Homo sapiens: one gene and its partners. The protein of the gene in region 2 interacts with the protein of the main gene of each other region in a pairwise test. Each region holds a gene or a part of one and is shown on either strand. Other genes may lie near its edges. The genes, in order: TXNDC9, CEP76, ZBTB24 and FAM90A1.

Region 1 (9,105 bases), on a different chromosome or scaffold from region 2:
AACCTAACCACTGACACTCAGTTCCTTGGTAAAACAACACTCTGCCCACCTTATAGATCAACTGCAATACTGGAATAAACTTAGAAGCATAAATAAAGCACAACAAATGAGCAAGTAACATTAAAAGTAGCTGAATGAGTTCCCCACAGGGACAGCATGGAAGGCTAGAGAGGTTACTATCAACAAAAATCTATAATCTGTTTTCTTATTAATTTATAGCAAACTAGGACTTCTTCCCCTACCACTTCCTAAAGCGTCAGGATAGGAACAGGCTAGACCAAAAGAATTCTGATTATGCATCTTTTTTTGATGTAATTTATGCAGACAAGAGTTTCATTCAAATATATGCAAGTAAGAAATGAATTCCTTTATTAAACCTAGGCTATGTGTATTATATTTGTTTGATATGTGGATATTGAATCCTAGCCTTTGTCTCAACAAGTTTCCCGAGTCAACTGAAAAAGGTCAGGAAAACTTGCTGAACAAACACCACATCAAAATCTCATTCTTAGAATTACACAAACTGGGGCTGAGCGTGGTGAATCACACCTGTAATTCCAGGCCTTTGGGAGGCCAGGGTGGGAGGATCACTTGAGTTCAGGAGTTTGAAACCAGGCAGCCAACATGGTGAAACCCTGTCCCTACTAAAAACACAAAAATTAGCCAGGTGTTGGGCGCCTGTCATCCCAGCTACTTGAGAGGCTGAGGCAGGAGAATCGCTTGAGCCCAGGAGGCGGAGGTTGCAGTGAGTGGAGATCGCGCCACTGTACTCCACCCGGGGTGACAGAGCAAGACTCCATCTCAAAAAAAAAAAAGAAGATTTTTCACAAACTGGAACAGAATTCTAGAACTTGGTCTTTAAGCAAAATTCTAGAATTCTAAAAATACACAGACAAGAATAAATATCTTGATCACTGACACATGCTGTACAAATAAAATTAGGTAAGTTAAAATCTAATTTTAAATGAATACTGAGTGGCTAAGAAGTTAAAATAAGGATTAATTAAATATAAGAATTAAGGACAGTGAGTATTGTATGTTCTGTCCAAGAACTGAAAAGTGGCTCCATGCCTTCTCTTGATAACTAAATAAGCAGTTGTCATTTCTCACACAGTTCACACCTTGCCAGAAACATGCCTGACATAGCCAAGGAGGGGAGGTGGAATGACAGTAAAATCTTTAAAGTGTGGACCTTCACCCAGGAGAATAAAACCGGATCTCTATCTCATTTTACACAAACAAGAATACTAATCCTAAAATTGGACTTTCTCCCTCTAGATTTTCTTTCCAGTCTGTGTTTTTGTCCCATTTACAAATATTCAAAATATCCCTGAAGAAAGGAAAGAAATATTAAAATAAAGGTAAAAAGCTGACTCACAAAGCAGTGGAACTTCCCATTCCCCATCTCCCAATATCTCATGTGGAAGACCAAAATAAAAACCCAAGCAGTTCCAGTCAAAGGGAACTCTGCTAAAGCTCAGGATTTCTTAAACACAATCTGAAAGCCATTCATAAAAAGGAGTCCATGAGGCATTTATACACACACACACTCACAAAATGTATCAATTTCATATATTGGTATATGAGAAAATAAATGTTTTAAAATTATATTGCCACCACTTTCCCTTCAACATGAGCCAAAAACAAACAAACCAAAACAACAACAACAACAACAACAAAACACAGATTAGGTTGAGAGGGGGAAAAAACAGCATTTCTTCTACACAACCAAACCAATCATTTAACAACAGGGTCTAGTGTGCAATTTAAACTTTACAGCATCCCTGAAAATCTTTATAAATCAATGAGACACTCACTTTTCCCTAAAAAGACACAGACAAGAATAAACATCTTGTCTCCCAATGGCTTTTTTCTATTGTGAAAGAGCCTGGAAAGTAAAAAGTGTAAGTAGGGAAACATATAAGCCGGATCGCGCCTGTAGTCCTAGCTACTAGGGAGGCTGAGGTGGGAGGATCACTGGCCAGGAGTTCAAGACCTGACTGGGCAACATAGTGAGACTGCCCCTCCATCTCCAAAAAACAAAACAAAACAAAAACACATATATATGTAATTTTAATCTAAAGAACACATTTGTGTAATCCTAAACCAAACGAACGAATTGAAAAAAAAACTGTAATAAGACAATCAGGGAAATCAGCAAACTGACTGAATATTTGCTAATGTTTAAGAATCACTATTAATATTTCTTACAGATATACTTGGTGGATTTACAGATGAAAAGCTAATGAGATTTGCTTTAAAATATCTAGTAGGTGGGGGCCAGGGGCGATGGATCACGCCTGTAATCCCAGCACTTTGGGAGGCCGAGGCGGGCGGATCACCTGAGGTCGGGAGTTCGAGACCAGCCTGACCAACATGGAGTAACCCCGTCTCTACTAAAAATACACAACTAGCCGGATGTGGTGGTGCATGCCTGTAATCCTAGCTACTCGGAGGCTGAGGCAGGAGAATCGCTTGAACCAGGGAGGTGGAGGTTGCAGTGAGCCGAGATCGCGCCATTGCCCTAAGTTTCTTGTTGTCTGGGCAACAAGAGGGAAACTCCGTCTCAAAAAAAAAAAAAAAATGTATATATATATTTGTGTATATATTTGTATATATATATATTTATATATATGTGTGTATATATATTTGTATATATATATATATACACACACTTCTAGTAGGTGGGATGAAACCAAGCAGGTCATGTGCTAACAATGGTTGAAGGCAGGTAATTAATACATAAAGGCTCATTATACTCAGTTCTCTATTTTCTAGAGACAGCTGAACATTAGCAAGGAAAAAAGTACCCTATACATCAAAAATTCCTGTCAAAAGTACAGAAATTTGTGTTCCCCTACATCACCCATAATCCTTATTTTCTCATTCATCTGGTTTAACAATAATTCAATTCTCCAAACCAATTAACTTCCTCCAATAGACCTAAAACTGAAATACAAGACTATCTTTGTTGTCTTTTAATTCTACTCATAAGCTAGTCAAACGCTAGGTGAGAAAACGATCCAGGCTTCCAATTTATAATTAGTAAACTTATTTTAACTTCAAGACAACATATCTGTTTTGAGTCAGACTGATGAACTAGCACTAGTTTTTTTAATTTACCTTACTCTCCGCCTCGTATTTAAGTTTGGTGGGTAGTGTACGAACGTGTAATGTAACAGATGTTGTTCACTCCCAGGAAGTCAACTCTTTCCATCATGAGTAACAGAACTCAATCGAATGTGACACACAGAAATGTCTCAAAAATCTCTAGGTAAGTAACTCGCATATACCCTTATCCTCCCTCCCCAAAGCATTGCAGGTGGTTAGAAAGGAGCGACCTCGGTTGGTTGGTTTCTTCTTCTTCCCTTCCTTTCTTAGGGGAAGGCTAGAGAGCAAAGAAACGACAAAAAAAAACAGGCCGGAAGAAGGAAAGCGAAAAGCATGAGGGCTGGACAATCAGCCCTTAAATAAACGAAAACTGTATCCAAATCAGATTAAGTTGAGAGACAGCGAACTGCTAAACACCTCCCCATAACTCTAACGTACCTGAAACCGCGAGTAGAGAAACCCGGCCGTACATCACATTCAAGCTCCCTTCCCTCCCAAAGTACTCACAGGTATAAGAGGCATAAAAAGAACTTCCCCACCCTCGCCAAGAGTAGCGCGGAAAAAAACTCACACTGGCCTGGGCCACGCTGGCGAAGCCGCCTGACCCTCCCCGCGCGACCAGGAACCCTCAAATGACTACCCCGCTCCTCAGGCCGGGGAAGGGGTGCCGGGGGAGCGAGGCTCGACTGGGAGGACCCGCCCGCCGTCGAGGCCCTACGTGCCCACCCGGCCCGGGGGCTTGGGCCCGCTCCGCACACTCTGGGCCCAGGCCTGGTACCCCGCGAAGCTCATCGCGAGCCCAGACCCCGGTCCGACGCCGCGCCCGGCGAGACCCGCACACTCCACTGAGCCACGGCGGCCGCCGCCGTACGGACCCAACCCCTATCTACCTGTCTTCGCTCTTGTTTTTCTGTTTCTTCCCCATTGCTTGTCAATGGCGCTCGTGGCCCCAGCCCCTCTATTCGGTCTCTCACAGACCCACTGTCTCCCGGCTGACTTTGGTCTCCGCTCAGCTCTTTTCCCCTCGTGCTGCCGCCGCTCGCACCCGGCTCTCCACAGACCCGCGCACTGGAACAGGACACATATGGTGTGAGTTCTCAGTGCGCAAGCGCATCGCCCAGCCGCCTCGGCGTGAGGACGCAGGGCGCGGCTCATCGAGAGCTGCGCTTCGGGTAGAGCGTCTCCGGTTGACCGGCCGACCAGGCAGCAGCCCGAGCGCCCCCTGCCCTCAAGCGTCCGCCACGAGCCGACACCCGCGGGTTTTCCACGTTCTAGAACCCGGAGGTGGACAATGAAGCTGTCAATTTCGCCACCTCACCCCTCTCCCAACGGGGAACGCACGCTTCGGTTCAGGAGTGGGCTTTGGGCTTCCCTTTATATCTTTGTATTCTCAGCCGCACGAAGTTCAGTAAAGAACCACAACGAACCAATAGAGTCCTCTGGGGGTTTGCGAGAGAGATAAATTCAGGACAAAATAGGGACCTCTCAGTAACATCCATGCATTATGCATTATGTACAGTCACTGAATAAAACAGAACAGGACACAGCCGATCAATTCCCTAACATAGGTCTTCAGCTTCACCCTCAAAGCGAGGGCGAGTTCTAAAAATTCCTGTGTTTCGAAGAGTCAAGAGGGGACCTACAGGGGTGGTGGAAAATGTTCTATATCTGGATCTGGCCGGTGATATTTTGGGTTTTAACTATGCAAAAGTTAATTGTGCTGTATATGTTTATGCCTCGACTTTAGGAAAAATGTTAACAAAAGAAAACAAAAAAAAGAAAAATGTTCATTCAACACTAACAGAATGGAAACGCAGTTCAAGCGTCACGGCTGAGCGAGAGCACAGCTGTCTCATTTCCAGTCTGGCGCACTGGACCGTGAATACTGAAGCACGCTCCTGAGAAAGTCCGGCCACGACAGCCTGCGCACTAAGAAACTGCAACTCCCACAATGCTTTGCGGCCTTCCAGTTCGGCCGTGTACCCGGAGGAAAGCAAGGGTCGGACACCTTGGGTTCCGGGCTGCTGGGCGGGAGGCGCACGCGCAGAACTGTTCGCCACCCGACCGCCCGCCCCTTCCTCTGGCGTCCAAGGTGATATCGCGCGAGGTTCGCAGCCAATAAGGAGGCGGATGTGACGGCCCGTTTGCAGCCGCCGGCAGCTACTGCAAGGCAAAAGCCGGAGTGGACGTGTCTTTTGAAACTGCTGCTCTTTCACTTCTCAGGCGTCACCGAGAGCTCAGGTGAGGCAGAGGGTAGTGAGAAGAATCCGACCACCACGTCCGGGTGCTGGTGAACATTCTGCTGCTCCACATCCGGAGCGGAGGAGGGGCGCGGCCCCAGCACCGGTGTCGGTGTCCTGGCAGAGGCTCTTGCGCAAGCGCACCAGGAGGCGTCGAAGTTGGGGCCACCGGGACTGTGCTTTCCTCTGTTTCCCCGGGCGCAGGGAGTGGCCGGCTTGCCATTGGGGAGGTACCTGGGGTTCAGTTAAGGACCAGGCCCCTTGATTGTTTTGGCGGATACCTGTAAGGGTGTCCAGGAAATGACTAGGGAATTTGAGGACGCGCTGTGTCCCGTCCCACCCTTCCAGCGGAGCTGTAAAAAGGAAGAATCAGAGGCTGTGGTTTGAAAAATGAAAAGCTAACGAGGGGTTGCATCGTCTCTTTACCCCATTCTCAATGCTCTGACCACCAACACCTACACCCAGAATAGCTCTTCTTAATCTCGTCTTTTTCCAGTTATCCCATAATTAAATTCTGGGCTCATTCTATAAAGTTCCAGGGTAGGCATTCTCTGTGCTTATCCCTGGAGCACAGCTTCCAACGTTCAATTCAGTATCTTATTATCTTCTCCTTCCAGCCCCCTCACTGAGGGTCACAGTCCTACTGACATTTTTCTTGGGCGATAGGGAGCGTGGAAATCTTTGCTGTGTTTGAAATACAGCACCTTTCCAATTTTATAGCACTCACGAGGAGCTTACAATTTGGTTTTTTAGACTCAAATACTTTTGAAACTTAACAGTGTAGTAATTTGAACAGAAGTCAGGCACGTGTTCATTCAACGTTAAATACATGTTTATTGAGTACCTGCTGTGTTCTATGGAGATACAAAGATGAAATCAAGTATGCTTTTCAAATCCTTTTCCTGTAAAGAAAAAGGAATCAGAATTGAAGTTTGCAAGAATATTTCTCTTCAGCTCAACGTTTATAGAGGGCCTGTGTGGGTCAGAATCTGTGTCAGAAGCTGAGTGAATGAATTCACAGTTTGTTGTGAAGTTTGGGGTGCTTCAGTATTATTTGCAAATGTATCATAGTTCATTGATATGCAACAGCCTCCTGCTTTGATAGGCAAATTATAAATCATTTCTGCAGTAATAACCCTGAGATACACATAAACTTGCCCTCTAATTGTTGGTATAAAATTTCTCGTACAAAATACTCCATTTCTTTTAAAAGAAGTAAAATTTTGGCCGGGCGCGGCTGGCTCACGCCTGTAATCTCAGCACTTTGGGAGGCCGAGGCGGGCGGATCACGAGGTCAGGAGATCGTAGCCATCCTGGCTAACACGGTGAAACCCCGTCTGTACTAAAAATACAAAAAGAAATTAGCCGGGCGTGGTGGCGGGCGCCTGTAGTCCCGGCTACTCGGGAGGCTGAGGCAGGAGAATGGCGTGAACCCAGGAGGCGGAGCTAGCAGTGAGCGGAGATGCGCCACTGCACTCCAGCCTGGGCGACAGAGCGAGACTCCGTCTCAAAAAAAAAAGTAAAATTTTGTACTAATTGCTAGTACAAAATACTCCATTTCTTTTAAAATATATAGTCATGTGCCACATAAGGACATTTCAGTTTTATGAGATTGTAATACTGTATTTATCGTACCTTTTCTATGTTTAGATACACAAATGCCATTATGTTACAGTTGTCTGCAGTATTCAGTACAGTAACATGCTGTACAGATTTGTAGCCTAGGAGTAATAGGCTGTATGGCATAGCCTAGGTGTGTAGCAGGCTGTACCATCTGGGTTTGTGTAAATAGTCTATAATGTTTGAAACAATATCAAAATCACCTAATGATGCATTTCTCAGAATGTATTCTCATTGTTTTGTGGGTTTTTGGTTTTTGGTTTTTGAGACAGGGTCTGGCTCTGTTGCCCAGGGTGGGGTGCAAGTGGTGCGTTCTCAGCCCACTGCAACCTCTGCCTCCTGGGCTCAAGGTATCCTCCTCCCACTTCAGCCTCCCTAGTAGCGGGGACTACAGGCACACACCACCGGGCCTGGCCAATTTTTCTATTTTTAGTAGAGACAGGGTTCCATCATGTTTCCCAGGCTGGTCTCAAACATCTGAACTCAAGTGATCTGCCCACCTTGGCCTCCCAAAGTGCTGGGATTACAGGCGTGAGCCATAGCACCCAGCCTAGAATATATTCCCATTGTTAAGTGATGCATGACTAATTGAGATAGGTCTTCCTTTCTAATCTGAATTAGTTCTATTTTGAAACTCTGATTTTACACAGAGGAGTGATGTTGGAAAAAAACCCAAAATTTAGAAAAGTATTTGGAGTGTTTTACATCAAAGTTAACACTGTCAGTAAATGGAAACCAGTATTAATTTTTGTGACCTCATAGACTTTTTTGTTAGGTAATGGGAGAACAGGAATGGACATTAATGCTCAGGGAACACCAGGCACTCTTCTTTACATAAATGGTAATGAGACGTCTTAGGAGTTAAATGAAACTCATTTGGGCAGCAGCCATGAAAAAAATCTGTGTTTTGCTCAACTGTACTCTGTGTTTAAGTAAAGTTTAATATATATATTTATGTGTAAAACCTCAGTAGGTATACCTTCCTATTGTTCGCAGTTGTTTCTGATTTCTCTTTCCCATTGGTAAAGAACACTGATTGTCAGTATATATCACTAGGTATAACTTCACAACTCATTTCTCTGTGGTTTGGTGATGGTCTTAAAGACTTGTCTTGGCTTTAGTATAGTAAAACATATGCTAAATCAGAAGCACCCTAAATTTGCTGTAAGTAGTTTTTGAGTGGTGTGACTAGAACCTACTGAGAATTAAATTTAAAAACACATAAAAATTGTTAAGCCCAGCATCAAGTGCTTGGATGTCGTTAGAATACTCCATAGAGTACACATTATACACTTGCCAGAATTTTTGAAAATGGTAGAGAAAACCTTGCTTATTGTTTGCATTTTTTAAAATGTATTTTGTAAATCTTCTCCCCAGCACCCAGGCTGAACTCTGTACCATTTGGAAGAATGGAAGCTGATGCATCTGTTGACATGTTTTCCAAAGTCCTGGAGCATCAGCTGCTTCAGACTACCAAACTGGTGGAAGAACATTTGGATTCTGAAATTCAAAAACTGGATCAGATGGATGAGGATGAATTGGAACGCCTTAAAGAAAAGAGACTCCAGGCACTAAGGAAAGCTCAACAGCAGAAACAAGTAACCTCTCTGCCCTGCTTTCTGAAATTGCTATAACAGTATGCGCCTAACAACTTATATATACATGTGCTGTAGTAGTTACATTTCGTTCTTTGTGTTTAGGGTTTTTAAAATTCAGAATACCTATTACTGTTAAAAATTTGCCCAGAAAAAAATATGTTTTAAAGACATTCAAAATTAGCCCAATCTCTATATTAATCCACAGTCGAGTAAAAGAAAGATCTGCCCAAGATCGTTTTTCTGAGCTTGGATTTGTTTGGTTGAATGGAGGGCTAGGGAGTCATTGGTTTCCATTTCAGGTAATATTAAAGCCGATTTAGCTATTTTCAAAGCAAACGAGATAAGACAGATGAGATAAGAGCAATTAAGTCAATTTATGTTGAAAAATGTATTTCAGGCATTTCCAATGAAATAATTATGTGGCATATTCAAAAGAATGCATGCTTTGTAACAAAGGTGGCCACAGCTCTATCGTTGTTGCCTCTTAGAATGTTTGTGTAGAATAAACGCAGAGTTGTAAACTCTGACTGAAACCA
Region 2 (8,431 bases):
AAATACTTAAAATTTTATGGTTGGCTAAAACAGATTGTTTTGCATGAAGTATATCAGAAGAGTTAATGTATAGCACGGTAGAAGCAAAAACAGCATCACCAGTTTCTTGTGTTTTAATAATATGTTTTATAAAAACTGTACAGCCTTGCTTTTAAATATTAATATAATTGACAAATACACTTGCTGAATTGATAATTATATGAGTTGGTTTGTGAAGGTGGAGGAATGTTGGATAAGCAGTTAAAAAGCAAAAGTATACTACATATTGGCTCTGATGCCTTTTCCAGCTGGGAGAAAGTAGCCTGGATGTAAACTCAGAAAAGAATATCATATTTTGTGTATCTTCTCCCCAGAGTGCAAATGATTCTGGCATATACAGTAATAAATTTGTTACTCTTTTGCTTTTTTTTTAGTCTTTGGTATTGGGTTTTTATCTGTCAAGTTTTTATTTCCTAATGTCTTGATCACATTCTTTTAAGTTATTTGGCAGTTTCCTCATATATATTGCTACACTTTACAGCTAATATTGATCCAACACGGAGGTATCTTTACCTTCAGGTTTTGGGTGGAAAAGCTTTCTTGGAACATCTGCAAGAACCTGAGCCTTTACCTGGACAAGTTTGTTCAACGTTTACTTTATGTTTACATTATCGAAACCAACGTTTTCGTTCTAAACCTGTTCCATGTGCCTGTGAACCAGATTTTCATGATGGCTTTTTACTTGAAGTACACAGAGAAAGCTTGGGTAAGAAACAGTAATAAATTGTCATTTAATTGAGTAAATCTTTGTTATGTTTTATTGTGAAACAATAATAATGACTTTTTCTGTAAGGAGAGATTTATAATGGAGGAATCTCTATTTTGTTTCCCACTGCTCTTTTCAATTTAAACTACTATCCACCTTCTTGCAATATTCTGTTTGCTATTCATTTTCCCTGGATATTATTTTTTGACTGTTTTCATTGTTGATTCTTTAGTAATACACACTTAAATACCTATTATGTGCATAGTGTTATGCTAGGCAGGTGCTGGGATGATATAGTGGAAAATGAGACATGGTCCTTCTCATTTATAAAATATAACCAGATTGATGATGTTATGTAACTTTTAAAAGTCGAAGTTTAGGCTGAGCACGGTGACTCACAGCTGAAATCCCAACACTTTGGGAGGTCTAGGTGAGAGAATCATTTGAAGCCAGGAGTTCAAGACAAGTCTGGGCAAAGTGAGACATTGTCTCTACAAAAAATAAAAAATAGGCTGGGTGTGGTGGCTCATGCCTGTAATCCCAGCACTTTGGGAGGCCAAGGCAGGTGGGTCACCTGAGGTCAGGAGTTTGAGACCAGCCTAGCCAACATGTCGAAACCCTGTCTCTACTAGAAATACAAAATTTCTAGCCGGGCATGGTGGCAGGCGCGTGTAATGAGCCGAGATCACCCCATTGCACTCCAGCCTGGGCAACAGAGTGAGACTCTGTTTAAATAAATAAATAAATGAATAAATATTTATAAATTATTTATAAAAACTTCTAATAAATTTTTATAAATACTTACAAATAAATATAAATAAAATAAAAAGTCAAATTTAGATGTGAACATATAACTGTCATTTTAATTTTTTCTTTTTTTTCTTATTTCTCCAATAAAGCATGTAATTCTCATAACTAAATTTTATGCTACTTGATTCCTGTAATTGTTTTACACTATGTTTCTTTCAGTAAAGGTATTTTGTATTTTGTAATTGTCAGTATGGAAATCTTTATATTTGTAAACTAAGCAAAGTTTCAGAATGTCTTCACAATTTTAGATTTAAAGATGACTGAAACATTACTAAAATTTATTTTTTTCCCTTTGAAAGATGTTACCTTAATAAGGCAATTAATAGGATAAATTGCTAGATTCGATGTGCTGTATTTTTCAGTTGTATGTCAATTATACAGTGATAATTTCTGGAGGTTAAAGGGATTTCTTGAGGTAGTTTGGGGATTAATATTGACATACTTGAAGGCTTTTTATTGTAGTAGCATATACTTTAGTTAAGTACTTTTAAAGAACAGACTTATCTTATGAATCAGAAAGCACTGATATGCTGTAAGTTACTGGATAACTCATCACAATTTGCCAGTCTTCTGAAAAGTTAGTGATAGAAATAGGACTGTACTTGTATTTCCAGTTTTTTGCATGCTTTCTGAGACATTAGCAAATTGTTCTCTTTGGTTTTATATAAGCTTATTATTTACTGTTTAATAAAAGTATTCTTTTATGTTGGCCTAACTGAATATGTAGTGTGGTATAATTTCGTTTGGATTATATTGCTAGGTGATGGAACTAGAATGGCTGATTCAACAACAATGTTATCAATAAGTGATCCAATTCATATGGTGCTAATCAAAACAGACATATTTGGTGAGACGACTTTAGTAGCATCATATTTTCTGGAATGGCGATCGGTTTTGGGCTCAGAAAATGGAGTGACCAGTCTGACTGTGGAACTTATGGGTGTAGGTATGGTGATTAATATATCATTGTTAACCTTTTTATAGCCACAGTTCATTTGTAAATATATTTTATATCTTTAAAATGCTTTTATAATCCAAGAGGGAAACCTGTAAAATAGAATTTCGTTAGAGTTACAATTGGACCTCAGCATCCTAATCTTGAGAAATGTCTTGAAGAATAATATCAGTATAGCACTTCATGGTCAATCTGACCTTGTCTTAGGAGAAATGTTTTTTTCTGGAAAATGAATACAGGAATTTTGAGGGTTTTAATTTCAAGTTCATTTGATTAAATATAAGGCTATAAAGAAAATTAATATTCTTGACACACATACAAACTTATGTGTGTCCAGTCATCACACCCTGGAATACATCCCCTTTGGTACCAGTGATTCTTGCAAAATACAGAGTAGATGTTCTCCCAACCTTTTACAGTGTGGGTGAGTGAGACTCGGAAGAGGAAATAATTTGCTCAGTGTTAGTATCAACTAGTCCTTGAGGGCAGAGCTGGTGCCTATCTTATTTATCATAGTCTCCTTGGAATCTTGCACACTGCCCGCTATGTAACACATACTTGCTAATAAAATGAGAAAACAAAACCTACCAATGTTTTATCTATAACATATAATGGAATTACTTTGGTTTTTAAACTTAGTCACAGAGTTAAACCTTGCCAGTGGACAGCATAGCCTTAGTAATTTAGATTATTATTATTATTATTATTATTTGAGATGGAGTCTCGCTCTGTCACCAGGCTGGAGTGCAGTGCTGCAATCTCGGCTCACTGCAACCCCCGCCTCCTGGGTTCAAGCGATTATACTGGCTCAGCCTGCTAAGTAGCTGGGACTACAGGCATGCACCACCACACCCAGCTAATTTTTGTATTTTTAGTAGAGATGGGGTTTCACCATGTTGGCCGGGATGGTCTCGATCTCTTGACCTCGTGATCTGCCCGCCTCGGCCTCCCAAAGTGCTGGGATATTGGCGTGAGTCACCGCGCCCAGCCAGTAATTTAGATTTTAATAAGTCATACCAAGAATGTATTTTTCTTTAAATAAAAATTATAGAAAAAGTGTCCTTTATGTAAGAAATTTATTTTCAAAAACAATACCCAATTTGTCTTCAAAAATAGGCCTAACATGATAATCGTAGCAGTGACCTGGAAACAAGCAGATTCTGATTCACTGAAGAAACATTAAATCGTTTTGATGTGAAGTATATTTGTTTTCTAGTTCTTTAAATCCAGGCATGGATTGAAAATTTCTACTCAGCCTGTAATTGGATAATGGGGAGTGACAAATGGGAGTTACTATAAGTGACAATATAAATGCTTTCTAATTTTTAGTGTGTGTGTGTGTGTGTGTGTGTGTGTGTGTGGAGAAGGAATGAGGTGTTAACAGTTGCTTTGACTTTGAATTTAATGTAAGTCTGGTTGATATTATACATTTAATTAAGACAAAAATTAAGAGTCTCAAATCCTTTAAGTCAGAAAAGTTTCTTAAAACCTGTTAGAAAAGCCAGGTGTAGTGGCTCATGCCTGTAATCCCACCAAGCACTTTGGAAGGCTGAGGCAGGAATATCACTTGAGCCCTGGAGTTTAAGACCAACCTGAATAACATAGGGAGACCCCATCTCTACTTAAAGAAGAAAAAGAGTGTCAGAAAGCTAAGAAAATAATCTCCTTATAATTAAACACCTTTGTTTAAAAAAATTGATTTGGTTCATTTTAATATGAATATTAAAGGTAATGTTGAATGTTATCTTTATTCCATGTAAGTGATAAAACACCCAAGTGCCTAAATTATTTTGGTTAGACTTTGGTTGACTAAATATATATAGTATTGAAATCTCTGAAGTTCAAAATATTTATGTTTATAGGCACAGAATCAAAAGTTTCTGTGGGAATTTTAAATATAAAACTTGAAATGTATCCACCACTCAATCAAACGTTATCTCAAGAAGTAGTGAACACACAGGTAAATACTTATGAGTTTCTCTTTTTTTGTGTGTTTGTTTTCATAGTAGTATATTTACCTGTTGATCCTAGAAAGCACTCTATTTTTAGAAAATTACCATTTATTACTTTCTAGATTAGCACTCAAAGGTTCACAAAAAGGATGAGGAAGAAAATAAAGACAAGATTGTTTTCCTAGCAGAATCTGTAGTCTAGTTTAGGAAATACGATGAACATTTATTGAGACAGCATAAGAATTACAGGATAGGCCGGTGGCTCACGCCTGTAGTCCCAGCACTTTGGGAGGCCGAGGCGGGCGGATCACAAGGTCAGGAGATCGTGACCATCCTGGCTAACACGGTGAAACCCCGCCTCTACTAAAAATACAAAAAAAAAAAATAGCCGGGCGTGGTGGCAGGCACCTGTAGTACCAGCTACCCGGGAGGCTGAGGCAGGAGAATGGCGTGAACCGGTAAGAGGAGCTTGCAGTGAGCCCAGATCGCACCAGTGCACTCCAGCCTGGGCAACAGAGCAAGACTCCATCTCAAAAAAAGAAAAAAAAAAAAAGAATTACAGGATAAAGCTGAAGAAGATCAAAGAGTAAAGTGCAACCTCAGTGGGATGGGATTTTAACGTTCTTTCGCAGGCGTTTATTGAAAGCTTGCTGCTTATGTCTTTTCTGCTCTGTTCTCTCAGGGTAGAAGTGCTTGCCACTTTTAGAGTGTGTTTGGAGAGGCTTTTTTCCCTAATTCCACTGTCAGGTCTCTGATGAATTACTTTCTTCCTGGGTCTTAAAAGATCGGCAGATTTTTTCATTCCTTCACATTGGATTTGCCATCCATGTTTAGTTCTTGCCAGTCTTTAGTTTGGAGGTTCTCATTATCTGCTGACTTGCCGGGATGGCACTTGTGGAATGGTTCTCCTTGATTACATACACCACCCTTTACTCCACCCTGCCTGTCATATTGTTCCTTTTACAGACCTGTGGTTAGACGCTAGTGCTTCTCCCTCAGGCAAACAATGTCCTGCCCTGTTTTCTTTAAACTTTTTTTCCTTCCTTTTGTAAACTCTCATCTCCCTCTAATCTCTAGCTTCTGACATGTGTCATGGGTGGTATATATACCTGAAACCACATAGTGAGAACCAACTTTGATGTTACTCAAATAAATACCCAGCCCTGTGGGAGGCTAAGGTGGGTGGATCACTTTTGAGTCCAGCAGTTTAGGACCAGCTTGGGCAACATAGTGAGACCCTGTCTCTACAAAAATTTTAAAAAATTAGTCAAGCATGGTGGTACATACTTGTAGTCCCAGCTGCTTGGGAAGCTGAAATGGGAGGATTGCTTGACCCAGGAATTTGAGGTTACAGTGAGCTGTGATTGTACCACTGCACACTAGCCTGGGTTACAGACTAAGACCCTGTCTCTTAAATAAATGGTGTATACACACATATACATTATGTGTATACGTGAGGGGTTTTTTTGTTTGTTTTTTTCAGACAGAGTCTCGCTCTGTCGCCAGGTTGGAGTGCAGTGGCGCAATCTTGGCTCACTGCAACGTCTGCCTGCCGAGTTCAAGCAATTCTCCTGCCTCAGTCTCCTGAGTAGCTGGGACTACAGGTGGGTGCCACCACGCCCAGCTAATTTTTGTATTTTTAATAGAGACAGGGTTTCACCATGTTGGCCAGGATGGTCTCGATCTCTTGACCTCGTGATCTGCCTGCCTCGGCCTCCCAAAGTGGTATACATGAGTTTTAATCATGTTATTCATATATTTATGTGACATATAAAGTAAATGTTTGGGCTCTACTTTTTTGGGGTAGTAGCTTGTTTTTTTTAATTAAATTTTATTTTTTTAGAGACAGCATCTCACTCTCTCAGGCTTGAGTGCAGTGGTGTGATTATAGCTCACTGAAACCTCAGACTCCCAGCCTCAAGCAATCCACCTGCCTCAGCCTCCCAAAACATTGGGATTGCAGACATGGACCATTGTGCCCCACCAGGTTCTCCTTTTTAAACTTAACATTATTTTATATGTATTTTCTTATATTTCCACTGTCATATTTATAATTTCTAGTGACTAAAACATAAGTTTATTCTATTATCTGATAAATAAATTGCTTCTAATTTTCTCTTTAAAATTGCACTATTAAAACTTTTAGCCAGGCTAATTAATCTGTAATCCCAGCACTTTGGGAGGCCAAGGTAAGAGGATCACTTCAGGCCAGGAGTTCAAGACCAGCCTGGGCAACATAGGTAGACTTCATCTCTACAAAAATTTTTAAAAATTAACTGCACATGGTGGTGCATTCCTGTAGTCCCAGCTACTGGGGAGGCTGAGGTGGGAGGATCGCTTAAGCCCAGGAATTCGAGGCTACAGTGAGCCATGATCATGCAGTAGCACTCCAGACTGGGTGACAGAGCAAGACCCTGTCTCTTAAAAGAAATTAAAGTCAGAAATATGTATGGATCCTAAATAGATGTCAAAATGTGCTAGACACTGTTCTAGACACTGGAGATGTAGCTGTGTATAGGGCAGCAGACAGCTAGACAGCTTGCTCTCAAGGAGTTTAGATTCTAGTGCAGGAGAAACAATAAGTCAGCAAACAAAATAATCAGATAGTAGAAGGTGTTTTATGGAGAATTATTACAGGTGATATGATACAGTGGTTATTGGGTGGCTAATTATAGGTCGAGTGACTAAGGTAGGGAAAGAGTCTGAACAACAGGAAGTAACCAGCCATGCAAAGATTGGGGCTGAGCTTCCAGCACTGGGAACAGCCTAGAACAAAAGCCCCTATGGAGGACCGAAAGCCCTGTGTGGCTAGAGCGTAGTGGGTTGGGGAGAGAGGAGAAAATGAGATAGTCGGGCCAGAGTTCATAGGCCAGGGCAGGTATTTTGCAATGTGATGGAGAATGAAGTGTTTTAACAAGAGAATGACAGTATGTTTTTTTTTTTTTTGAGATAGAGTCTCACTCTATCGCCCAGGGTGGAGCACGGTGGCATGAACTCGGCTCACTGCAACCTCTGCCTCCCGGGTTCAAGCAATTCTCCTGCCTCAGCCTCCCGAGTAGCTGGGATTACAGGCATGTACCACCATCCCCAGCTAGTTTTTGTATTTTTAGTTGAGATGGGGTTTCACCATGTTGGCCAGGCTGGTCTCGAACCCCTGACCTCAAATGATCCACCTGCCTTGGCCTCCCAAAATGTTGTGATTACAGGCGTGAGCCACCATGCCCGGCTTGTATGATTTACTATTTAAAAATTTCTGGGCCAGGCGCGGTAATCCCAGCACTTTGGGAGGCCAAGGCGGGCGGATCATGAGCTCAGGAGTTCAAGACTAGCTTGACCAATGTGGTGAAACCCTGTCTCTACTAAAAATACAAAAAAAAATTTAGCTGAGTGTGGTGGCACGTGCCTGTAGTCCCAGCTACTCAGGAGGCTGAGGCAGGAGAATTGCTTGAACATGGGAGGCAGAGGTTGCAGTGAGCTGAGATCTTGCCACTGCACTCCAGCCTGGGCGACAGAGCAAGACTGCATCCTCCACAACCAAAAAAAAAAAAAAAATTCTGTCTTTGAGGAAAAAAAGGTGACTTATGATTATTGTATGGAGATGGGATTGTACTAGGGGTAAGTGTAGAAATAGGGAAGTCAGGAGGCTCTTATAGAAGATGATGATGACTCAGATTAGGGTGGTAATGATGTAGAGAAGTAGATAAATTTGCTACATATTTTGTAGTAATTAAAGATAATGAATAGAAATTGAAAAATATTTTTTTCAATTTCAAGCTTGCTTTGGAACGTCAGAAAACTGCAGAGAAAGAGCGATTATTTCTTGTATATGCTAAGCAGTGGTGGAGAGAATATTTGCAAATTCGACCCTCACACAACTCACGACTGGTTAAGATTTTTGCACAGGTTTGTAAATTATATTAGAATAATTTTATGCCTGTATTTGAGATTTACTGTTATGTGTGTAAATTT
Region 3 (8,431 bases), on a different chromosome or scaffold from region 2:
AGCCTGGTTCAAGAACCCCTCTCATTTGTAGTTGTTGAATGAATCCTTTAATGTCCACTTATCAAGATCTAGCCCAATGTACCCTGCTTTCTGATTCTTGAACATTCTTCATCTTGACCATAACCATGCTTTTGCCCAAGTCTGTGTAGATCACTTTGTAACTCAGCTATCTAGCTTTAAATACCTTCTCATTTTTGGTCCCTCTAGCCCAGCGCTGACCAATGGGACCCTTCTGTGATGATGGAAATGTTCCTACATCTCTGATGTCCAATATGGTGGCCAGTAACCACATGTGGTTTTTGAGCACTTGAACTGTGGCTAGCGTGACTGAGAAACTGAATTTTAAATTTTATTTTAATTCATTTAAATTTGAATAACCACATGTGGCTAGTGGCTACCGTATTGGACACTGCAGTCCTAGTGAGAAATCCCTTCCTCCTTTGAGCCCTTTCAGGTGCTTAAAACCCACTCTGCTTTGGATCAGATTGTTGTTACCACTTGTATATCCCTCAACTTAATTGTAATCTTAAGTATAGGGACTGGGGCTTAAGTCTTCTCCTGTGATCCAGCAGTATCTGGTGCTGTGGTTCTCAGCCTGCAAATTGGAATCACTTAGGGAGCTTCTAAAACTACCAGTGCCTAGACCTCCACCCCAGAGCTTCTGATTTAGTTGTCTGGAGCCTTGGTGCTTTTAAAAGCTCCCTAAAGACTTTAGCTACAGATAGGTTGAAGAGCTTGAATTCAGGTACTTCGAACAAAGTGGATACTTGAGAAATATTTGTTGAACTGTAATAGGTTATATTTTAGCTTTTTTTTTTTTTTTTTTTTTTTTTTTGAGATGGATTCTCGCTCTGTCACCCAGGCTAGAGTGCAGTGGCGCGATCTCGGCTCACCGCAACCTCCGCCTCCCGAGTTCAAGTGATTCTCCTGCCTCAGCCTCCTGAGTAGCTGGGATTACAGGCACACGCCACCACGCCCAGCTAATTTTTTGTATTTTTAGTAGAGACGGGGTTTCACCATGTTGGTCAGGCTGGTCTCAAACTCCTGACCTCGTGATCTGCCTGCCTCAGCCTCCCAAAGTGCTGGGATTACAGGCGTGCGCCACTGCGCCCAGCTGGCTATTTTTATCAAAAATTTTATGTGCATAGTTTAGAGTTAAATCATTATACAAGACTTAAGAAAAAGCATGTAGGATCGTTCTTCCCTTATGTCCTCAGTACAGACAGTCCCCGACTCACAATGGTTCAATTCATCTTTACAATAGTGTGAAAGCAGTACATGTTCAACAGAAACTGTACTTTGAATTCTGAGTTTTGATCTTTTCCCGGTCTAGTAATATTCAGTATGATCCTCTCATGCCATGCCGGGCCACACAGTCACGTGGGTAAATGACCAGTACTCTGCATTTGGTGCATTCATACAGTACTCTGTATAAGTGCATTTTTCCTTATGATATTTTCAGTATGATGGGTTTGTTAGATGTAGTCCCATCATAAGTCAGGAAGCATCTGTATTCTGAATTTTGCAGCCCATCACTTTAGTATGGGTCTGTTTTCTTCCATCTGGGTAGATAACAGGTAGATTCATAAGGTTTGGAAACTGTCTTTCAGTTCTGGAAAATCTTGAGTTATTTCATAGATGATTTCTCCTCTCTGTTTTCTCTGTTCTCTCTAACTTTATTTTCTCTTATATTTTCCATCATTTTTGGCCCCACCCTCTGGGGGATTTCCACTTTGTTTTTCAGCCCTTTGAGGTTTTCTGTTTCAACTCTTATTTTTTTCCCCCTTTAGGAGCTCTTTTTTTTCTAAATGTTTTAATTTGAATGATCTTTTTATTTCACAATGTATTATCTTACCTCTATGAGCATGTTAATGATAACAACATTTTCCTCACTGGAGGCAAGTTGCTTTTTTTTTTCTTCTTGCTTGTTTGTCTGTCACTATTACAAAAGGCTCTCCTTGAGTGCCTGGTGTTTTTTTTTTAAATCATATGTAAGGGTGGGTTGCTAAAAGCTACTGGCAATGCTGCATGTGTGGAGAGAGCCTGTATTTTATTTATTTCTTAGGCTGTTGCCCAGGCTGGAGTGCAATGGCGTGATCTCCGATCACCACAACCTCCGCCTCCTGGATTCAAGTGATTCTCCTGCCTCAGCCACCCAAGTAGCTGGGATTACAGGCACGCACCACCATGCCTGGCTAATTTTTTTTGTATGAGAGAGTCTGTAAAACTGTGACCTTGTTCCCAGATCACACTGAGAGTCAGGCTGCTATTTCTCGTGGCCCAATAATGAGATGCAGATGAATTGGAGAGGAAGAGAGTTTTTATTTCTGTAACCAGTTATAGGGAGAAGGCCTGGAAATTATCGCCAGACCAACTCAAAATTACAGAATTTTTCAGAGCTTATATACCGCCTAAGCTGTATGTCTGTCTGTAAGTGTGCATTCCTCTAAAGACGTAGGTGATTAACTTCTTTTAATCTATATCCAAGGTCTGCGTCCCAAAGACCTTCTTCTGGAGCCTCAGTAAGTTTACTTAATCTAAATGGGTCTAGGTGCTGGGGTGATTACCCTTATCTTCTGCTAAATCACGGAGATTTGGGGAGTTCCTTCAGATCCCCAGTAAAACTTGTTTAATCCTAAGTGGGCCCTGTTAAGAATTCCTTCGTTATTTTGTCATGCTTTAAGGCCCAGGAGAAGCCTAGGGGAAACTCTTGGTGGGCTTTTGTTACATTCCAGCCTTTGTTTAAGGGCACTGGCTTTTAATGTTTAACTTAACCACTCAGTCAGTACTGAAACAGTTGTATGGAGGCCTGTCATAACCTCACTGGAGGTGGTGTGGCTGTGCCCCATGTCCTTACTGGTGCCTGGCTTCCACATCTTTGCTCTCTCACCTTGGACCTCTCATGTTCCACTGGAAGACGCTTCTGCTCTCCCACTTGGAGGCACTAGGCCTGGCTGCTGGCCTGTGTCTAGGACAGGATGGGGAAGAAGGAGTGGGGGAGTCTCATCATCCCAGATGGAAATGTTGACTTACTCTCCCTGTGGTGATCCCAACTCAACTGTGCCTAGAAACTCCTAATCCAAAGACCCCTTTTTCTTAACCCTCCTCAGTGAACACTCTCCATTCTCTTTTGGGGGAGGGACAGTCTCCTGGCTGTGTAGAGTGGAAGATTTGATCAGGGGTCTAAGCACCTTTGAAACAGACTTTCATTTACCCTCCCTCACCCCTGTTTCCAGAGATAGCAGGTGCCACCAATTCCTGAGCCTTAGGAGATTGTGTCTTAAAAATTAGGTTGTATTGGGCTGGGTGTGGTGGCTCATGCCTGTACTCCCAGCAATTTGGGAGGCCGAGGCAGGAAGATTGCTTGAGCCCAGGAGTTGGAGACCTGCCTGGGCAACATAGTGAGATCCCATCTCTAAAAAAAATTAAAATTACAATTAAAAAATTAGCTGGGTGTAGTGGTGGCACATGCCTGTGATCCCAGCTACTCAGGAGGCTGAAGTGGGAAGATCATTTGTTCCCAGGAGGTTGAGGCTATAGTCAGCTATGGTAGCGCCACTGCACTCCAGCCTGGGTGATAGAGTGAGACCCTGTTACAAAGGAAAAACAAAAAATTAGGTTATGTTAGTGCTACTCACTGCTGGCTTCAGATTCATCTGTTCAGCTTCCAAAATTTTATTGCTGATGTCTCTTGTGTTCATTGTTGGCCTTTTGGATGTGTGCCTTTTAAGAAAAATCCTTTATTGTTTTTTTAATTTGGGAGAGACAGAAAAATGTGTGGATTCTTACTTATACCATGCTTCTGGGGCTCTTCTTCCAGGGGAGCGACCTTTCAAATGTAATGAGTGTGGAAAAGGCTTTGCCCAGAAGCACTCGCTACAGGTCCACACCAGGATGCACACAGGCGAGCGGCCGTACACCTGCACCGTGTGCAGCAAGGCTCTGACCACCAAGCACTCACTGCTGGAGCACATGAGCCTGCACTCAGGTAGTGGGGCTTGCCCAGAGGGCCAGCTTCACCAGATTCCCATTCCCCAGGGTGGGCATTACCAACACCTAAATGGTGTTTTCTCAGCCTAGTATCATTTCCAACGTGGTGTCATTGAAAGACAGGATTTTGCATCTGTCTGAGTGCAGTTTAGAGTTCTGCACGGATCATTAAACTAGAGCTTATAAACTGGCTGCTGGGAGTTTAGTGTGCAAGCATGTTTTATTAAACCACCAAAGTTTAGAATTGTTTTACTTTGAACGCCTTTCGGGGAAACTTAAATTCTCCAGTTCTACCCCAGTCTCCAGTACTCCCGATTGCCTTACATACCTTTGCACATTTATGTTTCTGTGGTAGATTGAAGGCTTCTGGGTATGTAAACAAGTCGCTTGTATCATTTGTAGAAAATGGGGACCTGGACCCACTGTAGTATTTACCTTATTAGTGAGCATTCCAGTTCTTTATAATTTTTTACATGTTTTAGTGTTTTGGTTTTTTTGGCAGGACAGAAGTCTTTTACCTGTGATCAATGCGGAAAATATTTCAGCCAGAACAGACAGCTAAAGAGCCATTACCGAGTTCATACAGGTACGATAAAGTGAGAACATTTAGATTGGGGGGGAAGAAATGCAAATAAGAATTGTTTCTGAAACATTAGGTTTATATTGTTCTGCTCTTAGCACATATCGTTCACATAGGGTATTTAGGGAAAAGTGCCTTAAGAGTCTAAATTACATGTTTTTATGTTATTGTCCGCCACCATGTGAATTATGTTTTATTTGTATACTACAGTTTTGGTGCCACACACAGAAACCCTACAGAATTGGCATCTTTCAAAAGTGCCACTTGCACAGGGGAGCTTCAGTGAATGGTTGTTAGTGGTGCCTGGGCAGAGACATCATCATCCCATGGCTGTCAGCCCAGGCTTTCTCTCCCCTGGTTCTACCTGTTGTCCTTTTTCTTTCCTGCCAACTGATAAGAAATGAATGTGGGTTACGAGTGTCATTTGAGGTCATTTGTGGCCTCAGTCACACCAATACTTTGAGGAAAAAAGGAGAGACTACATTTAGAATTGGAAGGATCCTAGCTCTCTTGGAGGAGGCAGTGAGTTGAGGTGCTTAGGAAAATATTAACAGTTACCAAATTAATGAAAAAATTTTTGTGGTTAAAGTACTATATTTAAAGTGATTATTTTTCAGGGAAGTGCTTTAACACAAATCACTGAAGAAAAGGCAGGGAGAGCATGTATGCACTGACACTTTTTTTATTGTTGCGACAAGGCCACTCATTACCGGAATGCAAAGACTGCCATCGCAAATTCATGGATGTGTCTCAGCTAAAGAAACATCTGCGAACACACACAGGTAAAACTCCATCTCGTCTGTCCCCCCAGTACACGGGATGTTTTCAGGAGAGTGAAGAATGAAGTTCTCTGAGTGCCCTGCTAAGCCTGTGTTTGGAAATGTTTATTATAAATTGGATGGGAGTTGTGTAAGAAGATAAGTTAAAAGTTGGAAGGCAGAATGTTGTCAGCACTGTCTTTGGGGAAATCACATCTCTTGTAGATGAGCAAAATGGAGATCACTTACTGAGGACTATTCGTATGTCACAATTCATTTAATACCACAGAATAGTGAGTCTGAGTCTGGTTCTATGTTTCACTCTTAATTTACTTCAGCATTGAAGGTGATATCAAGACTTTTTTTTTTTTTTTTTTTTAAAGATAAGGGCTTGTGCTGTCATCCAGGCTAGAGTGTAGTGGCACGATCACAGCTCACCACAGCCTTGACCTCCTGGGCTGAGGTGATCGTCCCACCTCAGCCTCCTGGGTAGCTGGGACCACAGGTGCAAACCACCACACTACCTAATTTTTTATTTTTTAATTTTTGTAGAGATGGGTCCCACTATGTTGCCCAGGCTGGTCTTGAACTCCTGGGCTCAAGCAGTCTTCCTGTCTGAGCCTCCCAAAATGCTGAGATGACAGGCATGAGCCACCATACCCAGCAAGATAAATTTTTTTTTTTTTTTTTGAGACGGAGTCTCGCTCTGTTGCCAGGCTGCAGTGCAGTGGCACGATCTTGGCTCACTGCAACCTCTGCCTCCCGGGTTCAAGTGATTCTCCTGCCTCAGCCTCCCTAGTAGCTGGGACTATAGGTGTGCGCTACCATGCCCAGCTAATTTTTTTTGTATTTTTAGTAGAGATGGGGTTTTACCATGTTGGCCAGGATGGTCTCGATCTCTTGACCTTGTGATCTGCCCACCTTGGCCTCCCAAAGTGCTGGGATTACAGGCGTGAGCCACTGTGCCTGGCCCAAGATTATTTTTTTAGAAAAGACAGCCAAATGTAACAGACACAAATGTAGCATAGACACTGAGAATGTTTCCACTTTCTCCCCTAGAACCAACACTTAAACTTAAGCAGCACCACCTCCAGAAAAATCAGTTTCAGAGATGACGAGGAGGCAGCATTGATTAGGGCAGGTCAGTTTTTTTATGTAAGATCGGAAAATTGGATCTTTTATACCTTTTGTCAAAGAATGTATGTTAAAAATAAGCCTATTCAGTTTTCTAAGAAAAACTTGCCATTACAGGTTATTTAATAATTCTGTTGTCTACTGGAATTATCTAAATAGCAAATTGATTTATGGTGCTTTGGACTTTTTTTTTTTTTTTTTTTGGAGTCACTGTCTCTGTCGCCCAGGCTGTTGTGCAGTGGTGCTATCTTGGCTCACTGTAACCTCTGCCTGCTGGGTTCAAGCAATTCTCCTGCTTCATCCTCCCGAGTAGCTGGAACTACAGGTGCGCACCACCACGCCTGGCTAATTTTTGTGTTTTTTTTTTGTAGAGACAGGGTTTTGGCATGTTAGCCAGGCTGGTCTCGCTCAAACTCCTGGCTCAAGTGATCCACCCTCCCAGCCTCCCAAAGCGCTGGGATTACAGGCGTGAGCCACTGTGCCTGGCCTGGATGTTGTTTTTTAAATACAAGTTTTTCTTCTTAAATTCAGTAAACATCTCATAGGATATGGATTTTAACACATGTACTGAGCACTTACTGGGAACCAGACATTGTTTTAGGCTTTGAGGATACAGCAGTGAATGAGATGGACAGGCCCCTGCCTTAAGGGGCCAACATTCAATAGGGAAGACAGAGTACAGACAAGTATATAACACATTTGGTGTTGTGAGTGCGTTGAAGAATAAAATGCAAGGTAAGGGGGCGGGATGCCGGAAAGAGAGTTGCTCTTTTATGCATGGACTGGTTTGGGAAGGTCTCACAGATGAGGTGGCATCTTGGATGGAGATGAGAATGCAGTGGGGGAGTGAGCCAGCCGGCCATTGAAGATGTCCAGGAGAGAGCATTCTAGGCAGGGGGAGCCCTGGGCACAGGGCCCTCAGGCAGGAATAAATGTTTTTGACAAGCTGGAGACGTGCTGGGAGGAGCATCAAGGCAGCCAGAGAGCTGGGAGTAGGAAGTCATAGTGTAGGTGGATGTTCTCAATTTAGCTGCATGCTTTTTACCACCTGGGAAGCTTTAAAAAAAAGCCTTGTCCCAGCTGCCAAGATTCTGATTGACTTCACCTGGGCAGAGCCTGGGAATTGGTGTTTTTTAAAGTACCCCTCAACAGTTGTAGGGTGCACTCGGGCTGAAGTACTTTGAAGGCCACAGTAAAGATTGGATTTTATTCTGAGGGAGATGGCTTTACTGAGATGAGTGACATGGCATGACTTAGGGTTGTAATAGGGTCACTCTAGCCACCCTGTGAGGTGGGGGCGAGGCCAGGGTGGAGGCAGAGAGACCCATCAGGAGGCTGTGCAGTAGTGGGGCTCGGAACAGCACAGTAGCAGCAGAGGTGGTGTCAGGTGGTCCAGTTCTGGAGATAGTCCAGGGAAGAATTCATGTGATTCGCTCATGATTGGATGTGGGAGTTGAAAGAGGAGGCAAAAGCCACTGTGAGGAGGAAAAGCTAGGGAAGACTAAGAAGAACAGATCAGGAGTTAGATTGTGGACTGGTTGGTGTCTATTTGACATCCATGTGCAGGTGTGGGGTAGATCATTAGATTTCCAGGTCTGGAGAATTCGGGGGAGAGATGCAGCCAGAGCTCTGGATTTCCACAGGTGCACATGTGCCTGCAAATAGTGGGTGGCGCTGTGCTGAGTTCCCTAGGGAGACAGCGGTGGTGGAGGAGCGTGGAGCTGGCTTGGTCATGCTGAGCAGTGCCAGAAGAGGCACTTCCCCTTGGTTCTGTTGCCTGAGCATAAGGGGGAGTGAGGTTTCTGGGCTTTGTGAGTAGCAGTAGGACTTGAAGTGGGGATGAAAAGGAACAGAAGACCTCCCCCACTATAATTCCAGCAAACTCTTCTCAGCCTGTCAACTTTGAGAAGCAGAACAGAAAGTGGAAGATGTGTGATGAGTTAAAAAGGAGACAGACGGGCCTCTGTGG
Region 4 (5,290 bases), on a different chromosome or scaffold from region 2:
CCAAAGAGTTCTGTCACCACCACCCAGGTTGCTTTTCCCATCCAAGGTGGGCGTGGCTTGGGACCTCCTCCCCGGCCCGATAGGCCCCTTGAGAGACTCTTGGGGGCAACCTCCCTTTCTACTTAGAGTCCTGTGTAGCCACGTTTGGCTGTGTTGTTGACATCGGGTTCACCATCGTGCCCCTTAGGACCTTGAGTCCTGCCTTTTAGAGTTCCTCCGTCACATGGGCTTTGGGAGGGAACATCGTATCCGAACTCTCCCAGCACTTAACGGCCCCCATGCCGGTGTCCCCTCTTTGGAATCCTTATTCAGCTCTGAATTCACAATCCGTCTCAATGTTGACGTGGGATCGGTGCCTGTGGCTTCAGCTCACTCACTGACATCACTTCCTTTCCACCCACAGCTCAAGTGCAAAAACTGTGAGGCCTTTGGCCACACGGCCAGAAGTACCAGGTGCCCCATGAAGTGCTGGAAGGCAGCCCTGGTTCCACCGAACTTTGGGGAAAAGGAAGGGAAGGAAAACCTGAAACCATGGAAGCCCCAGGTTGAAGCGAACCCTGGGCCCTTGAACAAGGATAAGGGAGAGAAGGAAGAGAGACCAAGGTGAGCAGTGGGAGTGGTTTTCACCACTCTTAGGGTACTGCCTCCTAAGGACATGGTGTCTCTGCACCTGCACACCGTGTGCCTTTCCGTCTCCGGGCCAGGGAAGGAACGCTGCAGAGAAACAGACCGGAGCTCTGTGTCTTCCGGAGTTCCACACCCAAGAGCTCCTTTGGCTCTGGGAGATTCAGGGACGGGGAGGGGCGGGGGCGCTTCGTGCAGGTTCCCCACGACAGGGGGAAAAGTGATGGAATCCAAATCACAGTCCTTAGTTGGGAAGCCTAGAGGGCCACCTGGAGGATGGGAAGGTTGGCACGTGAGGGAAGGTGCAGAGGCGGAAAGGGCACCAGATGTCCATTTCTGTATCACAAAACACGGAATGGGACTGGGCCCCAGACAGGGTTCTCCCCGTCTCCTGGGGAAAACCAGGGAGGACGGCCTGACCTTTTTCTGTTCTGCAGGCCACAAGACCCGCAGAGGAAGGCTCTCCTCCACATATTTTCCAGGAAACCTCCAGAGAAGCCGCTGCCAAATCAAAAAGGATCCACGGAATCTTCTGATTATCTGAGGGTGAGGGTCACCCTGGGCCCCTGGTCTTTTTCTCCTCTAGGTCACCCTGGTTGATTTCCTTTCAGCTTCCCGTCTGCGGGAGGGAATCGGGGAACCCCTCTTTCTTGCCTTCTTGGGGTCAGACACTCCACGATCCTTCCAGGTCAATTTGATTCCAGGCGAAGGCATCTGAAGATGCCGTATTTCCTGTTGCTTTCTTTCTGTCCAATTATGGCAAGCCTGCCAACAACACGTTCCTAGCGGCATGAGGAAATTAGTCCCTCAGAGGCCCCAAACGTGGAGAAGGCTAAACCCAGGAACATGCATATGTTCAGAGAAGACGTCCTGAGTACCCTTGAGCCACCAACCTGCCTTCGGAAGGGCATCAGTCGGTTCCACTTCATGGAAGGCTGAGTGGAGGCGCTTTGATCCAGCTAATGCCTAAGACGCAATCTTTTGAACAATGGTGTGCTTAGATCAGCTACACATAGCTCGAGAGCGCATCTTTCATGTGTCTTGTCCTGATCAGCACTCAGGTGGAGGGTCTGTCCCTACTTCCAAGGACCGCCTGTCGATAGTGTACTAAGAATTTCATGGCGTGTGCACCTTGTCTTTGGATGTGGTTGATTTTCATGTTGGCTCCATGCTGAGGAACTTCTAACCTGTGTTGTTTCCTCTCTTTCAGGTTGCAAGCGGGCCAATGCCGGTCCACACAACCAGTAAGAGGCCGCGTGTGGACCCTGTCCTCTCTGATCGCTCAGCTACCGAAATGTCTGACAGGGGCTCCGTCTTAGCTTCACTGTCTCCCCTCAGAAAAGCCAGTCTGAGCTCCTCCTCAAGTCTTGGACCAAAGGAAAGACAGACAGGGGCTGCGGCCGACATCCCTCAGACTGCAGTCAGGCACCAGGGCCCCGAGCCTCTCCTCGTGGTGAAGCCGACACACAGCAGCCCTGCGGGTGGCTGTCGAGAAGTTCCCCAGGCTGCCTCCAAAACCCACGGCCTGCTCCAGGCCGTCAGCCCCCAGGCACAAGACAAACGTCCTGCGGTGACCTCACAGCCCTGCCCACCAGCCGCCACACACAGCTTGGGCCTAGGCTCCAATCTCAGCTTCGGGCCAGGAGCCAAGAGATCTGCCCCGGCTCCGATTCAGGCTTGCCTGAACTTCCCCAAGAAACCGAGACTGGGTCCCTTCCAGATCCCCGAAAGCGCCATCCAGGGAGGTGAGCTGGGGGCCCCGGAGAATCTCCAACCTCCGCCAGCCGCAACCGAACTTGGACCACGTACGTCACCCCAGACAGGCACGAGGACACCCGCCCAGGTGCTTAGCGGCGACCGGCAGCCTCCGCACAGCAGACCTTGCCTGCCTACTGCCCAGGCCTGCACCATGTCCCATCACCCAGCGGCCAGCCATGATGGGGCCCAGCCTCTCAGAGTGCTCTTTCGGAGACTGGAAAACGGACGCTGGAGCTCCAGCCTGCTGACGGCCCCCTCATTTCACTCTCCTGAGAAGCCGGGAGCCTTCCTCGCTCAGAGCCCTCATGTCTCAGAGAAGTCTGAGGGTCCCTGTGTTCGTGTCCCACCAAGCGTCCTCTATGAGGACCTTCAGGTTCCCTCCTCCTCAGAGGACAGCGATTCTGACCTGGAGTGAGACTGCAGGTGGCAGGGGCTCCTTGGCCTCCAGCTCCCGTGACTTGGAGGGGACTGTGGGACTGAGGAGCACAGAGCAGAGAGCAGACTCTGTGCGGTGACTCCGAAGCTCCCCGGCTGTGGCCCTTCTGTGGATGTGGGAGCCCAGGCCAGGCAGGGAGCAGATGCAGGGACTCTGCCACGTTGAATTCTGGTGAGGGACATTGTAGTTCGCATGGTTCTCTGGAAACGCGCCAGGAAAAGCTTCCGTGCCAGTGATTCGTTGCCTCAGAAACTGCATGACGCGCAGGAGTCAGACTTCCGCTGGGACGTCAATAGGAAACGGGGGAATTACTGTGTATTTGCTCTCTAGACGACTGAATAAGGGAAAAGTTAGGGAACCCTGAGAGGTGCAGCCCTTCCGCTGTGCCCCGCCCTGAGAGCAGTGTTTCGGACGCTGGGAAGCGCGCTGTGCAAAGCGCTCTCGGGGTCTTTCCTCAGCCTCGAAAAGTGGGCTCTGGAATCCCTTTGTAAATAGGTGTGTTGAATTTGTTTTGAAGTGAATAAAATTCTCAAAAAGATGACATATTGTCTTTTGACTTTCATTCCGTGTTTGTGTTTAACTGATTTTCCAAGTGAAGGGGTGGCCTGCCCCTCCACACCTGTGGGTGTTTCTAGTCGGGTGGGATGAGAGACGGAGAAAAGAAATAAGACACAGAGACAAAGTATAGGGAAACAACACTGGGTCCAGGGGACCGGCACTCAGCACACCAAGGACCTGCACCGGCACCGGCCTCTGAGTTCCCTCAGTTTTTTTTATTATGATTTTCATTACTTCAGCAAAAAGGAATGTAGTAGGAGAGCAGGGTGATAAGAAGGAGAAGGTCAACAAAAAAAACATGTGAGCAAAAGAATCTATATCATAATTAAGTTCAAGGGAAGGTACTATGCCTGGACGTGCACGTAGGCCAGATTTATGTTTCTCTCCACCCAAATATCTCAGTGGAGTAAAGAATAACAAGGCAGCACTACTGCCAACATGTCTCGCCTCCCGCCACAGGGCAGCTTTTCTCCTAGCTCAGAGTTGAATAAATGTACGATCGGGTTTTACACCGAGACATTCAGTTCCCAGGGGCGAGCAGGAGACAGTGGCCTTCCTCCATCTCAACTGCAAGAGGCTTTCCTCTTTGACTAATCCACCTCAGCACAGACCCTTTACGGGTGTCAGGCTGGGGGACAGTCAGGTCTTTCTCATCCCATGAGGCCATATTTCAGACTATCACATGGGGAGAAACCTTGGACAATACCCTGCTTTCAAGGGCAGAGGTCCCTGCGGCTTTCCACGGTGCATTGTGCCCCTGGTTTATTGAGACTAGAGAATGGCAATGTCTTTTACCAAGTATACTGCTTGTAAACATGTGGTTAACAAGGCACGTCCTGCACGGCCCTAGATCCCTTAAACCTTGATTTTATACAACACAGGTTTTTGTGAGCTCCAAGTTGGGTCAAAGCGGCTGGGGCAAAGTGGCTGGGGCAAAGCTACAAATGAACAACATCTCAGCAAAGCAATTGTTTAAAGTACAGGTCTTTTTCAAAATGGAGTCTCATGTCTTCCCTTTCTACATAGACACAGTGACAGTCTGATCTCTCTTTCTTTTCCCTACATCCAAGGGCTTGAAAATTTCTTGACTTGTTCTCAATCCAAATCGTTATGTCTCTGAAACAGAGTTGACTGAGGGGACCGCAGGGCTGGGCAGGACCTTTGACTTCGTATACATCCACAGGAGCAAGAAAACCTCAGCCCCACTCTACCAACACACACCTAGTAAAATTCCGCCAACTGAATCTCACGCACGCTAACACGTGGGGAGCGTTGCTTGCACCACGAGTCCCCATTTGGCTCAACCGCCGATGCCAAGTGTGTGGTTCCAGTTGCGACGGCCCCCCGTGAAGTGGCTTCCGGATGTGCGAATGAACCAGGCAGAGTTTCACTGGCCAAATAGAGCCCAGCAAAGCTGAAGTTAACTCCCAGATTTGGGATGTACTTCAGAGGTAAAACATTCATCCCATCTTCTTTCCGGATGTCTGACACCGGGCCTTTCCATGGTTCTCCCCCTGATCCTAAGAGTAGCTGAGGTAGAGACTCACTGAAAGATCTAGGCAGGGATATCCCATCATGCCCAGGCTCTCTCCATTCTCTGACCTGGGAACAACTCTGAGCAGGATTCCACATCTAGGAGGCCTCGGAACTGAGCGCGATTTTCTGAGACACACCAAATGGCTGCTCCCTTTCCGCCGCTGTTGAGGGTCGTTATCCTGATTATCCAGATCACCTAGAAAGTATCCGTATCCAGAATCAATAAGATCAACTCTCTGCTCCTCTGACAGCAGAAGGAGCAGGACCACAAGGAACCAAAGAGCGTGGAAGGAAACGATGTGACAGGAAAGCTCAGAGAACGGCCACAGGGGGTCGTCAGCAGGCCTTCCAACCTGAATCATGAATAATTAATGAAGC

What was found.
Region 1: the proteins of CEP76 (region 2) and TXNDC9 interact in binary tests that used the Homo sapiens proteins (3 or more experiments, as listed by UniProt).
Region 3: the proteins of CEP76 (region 2) and ZBTB24 interact in binary tests that used the Homo sapiens proteins (3 or more experiments, as listed by UniProt).
Region 4: the proteins of CEP76 (region 2) and FAM90A1 interact in binary tests that used the Homo sapiens proteins (3 or more experiments, as listed by UniProt).

Annotation. Positions count from the first base shown.
Region 1 is NC_000002.12:99,332,486-99,341,590, reverse strand, and holds the start of TXNDC9 (thioredoxin domain-containing protein 9), read left to right. Parts: upstream 1-5,257; 5' UTR 5,258-5,352; intron 5,353-8,348; 5' UTR 8,349-8,380; coding exon 8,381-8,569; intron 8,570-9,105. Other genes in the region: EIF5B (eukaryotic translation initiation factor 5B), read right to left, coding at 4,002-4,036. UniProt on the Homo sapiens protein: Significantly diminishes the chaperonin TCP1 complex ATPase activity, thus negatively impacts protein folding, including that of actin or tubulin.
Region 2 is NC_000018.10:12,691,293-12,699,723, reverse strand, and holds part of CEP76 (centrosomal protein of 76 kDa), read left to right. Parts: intron 1-520; coding exon 521-745; intron 746-2,315; coding exon 2,316-2,501; intron 2,502-4,372; coding exon 4,373-4,470; intron 4,471-8,236; coding exon 8,237-8,365; intron 8,366-8,431. UniProt on the Homo sapiens protein: Centrosomal protein involved in regulation of centriole duplication. Required to limit centriole duplication to once per cell cycle by preventing centriole reduplication.
Region 3 is NC_000006.12:109,472,320-109,480,750, reverse strand, and holds part of ZBTB24 (zinc finger and BTB domain-containing protein 24), read left to right. Parts: intron 1-3,820; coding exon 3,821-3,988; intron 3,989-4,492; coding exon 4,493-4,576; intron 4,577-5,268; coding exon 5,269-5,352; intron 5,353-8,431. UniProt on the Homo sapiens protein: May be involved in BMP2-induced transcription.
Region 4 is NC_000012.12:8,219,329-8,224,618, reverse strand, and holds the end of FAM90A1 (protein FAM90A1), read left to right. Parts: intron 1-403; coding exon 404-603; intron 604-1,061; coding exon 1,062-1,170; intron 1,171-1,834; coding exon 1,835-2,797; 3' UTR 2,798-3,359; downstream 3,360-5,290.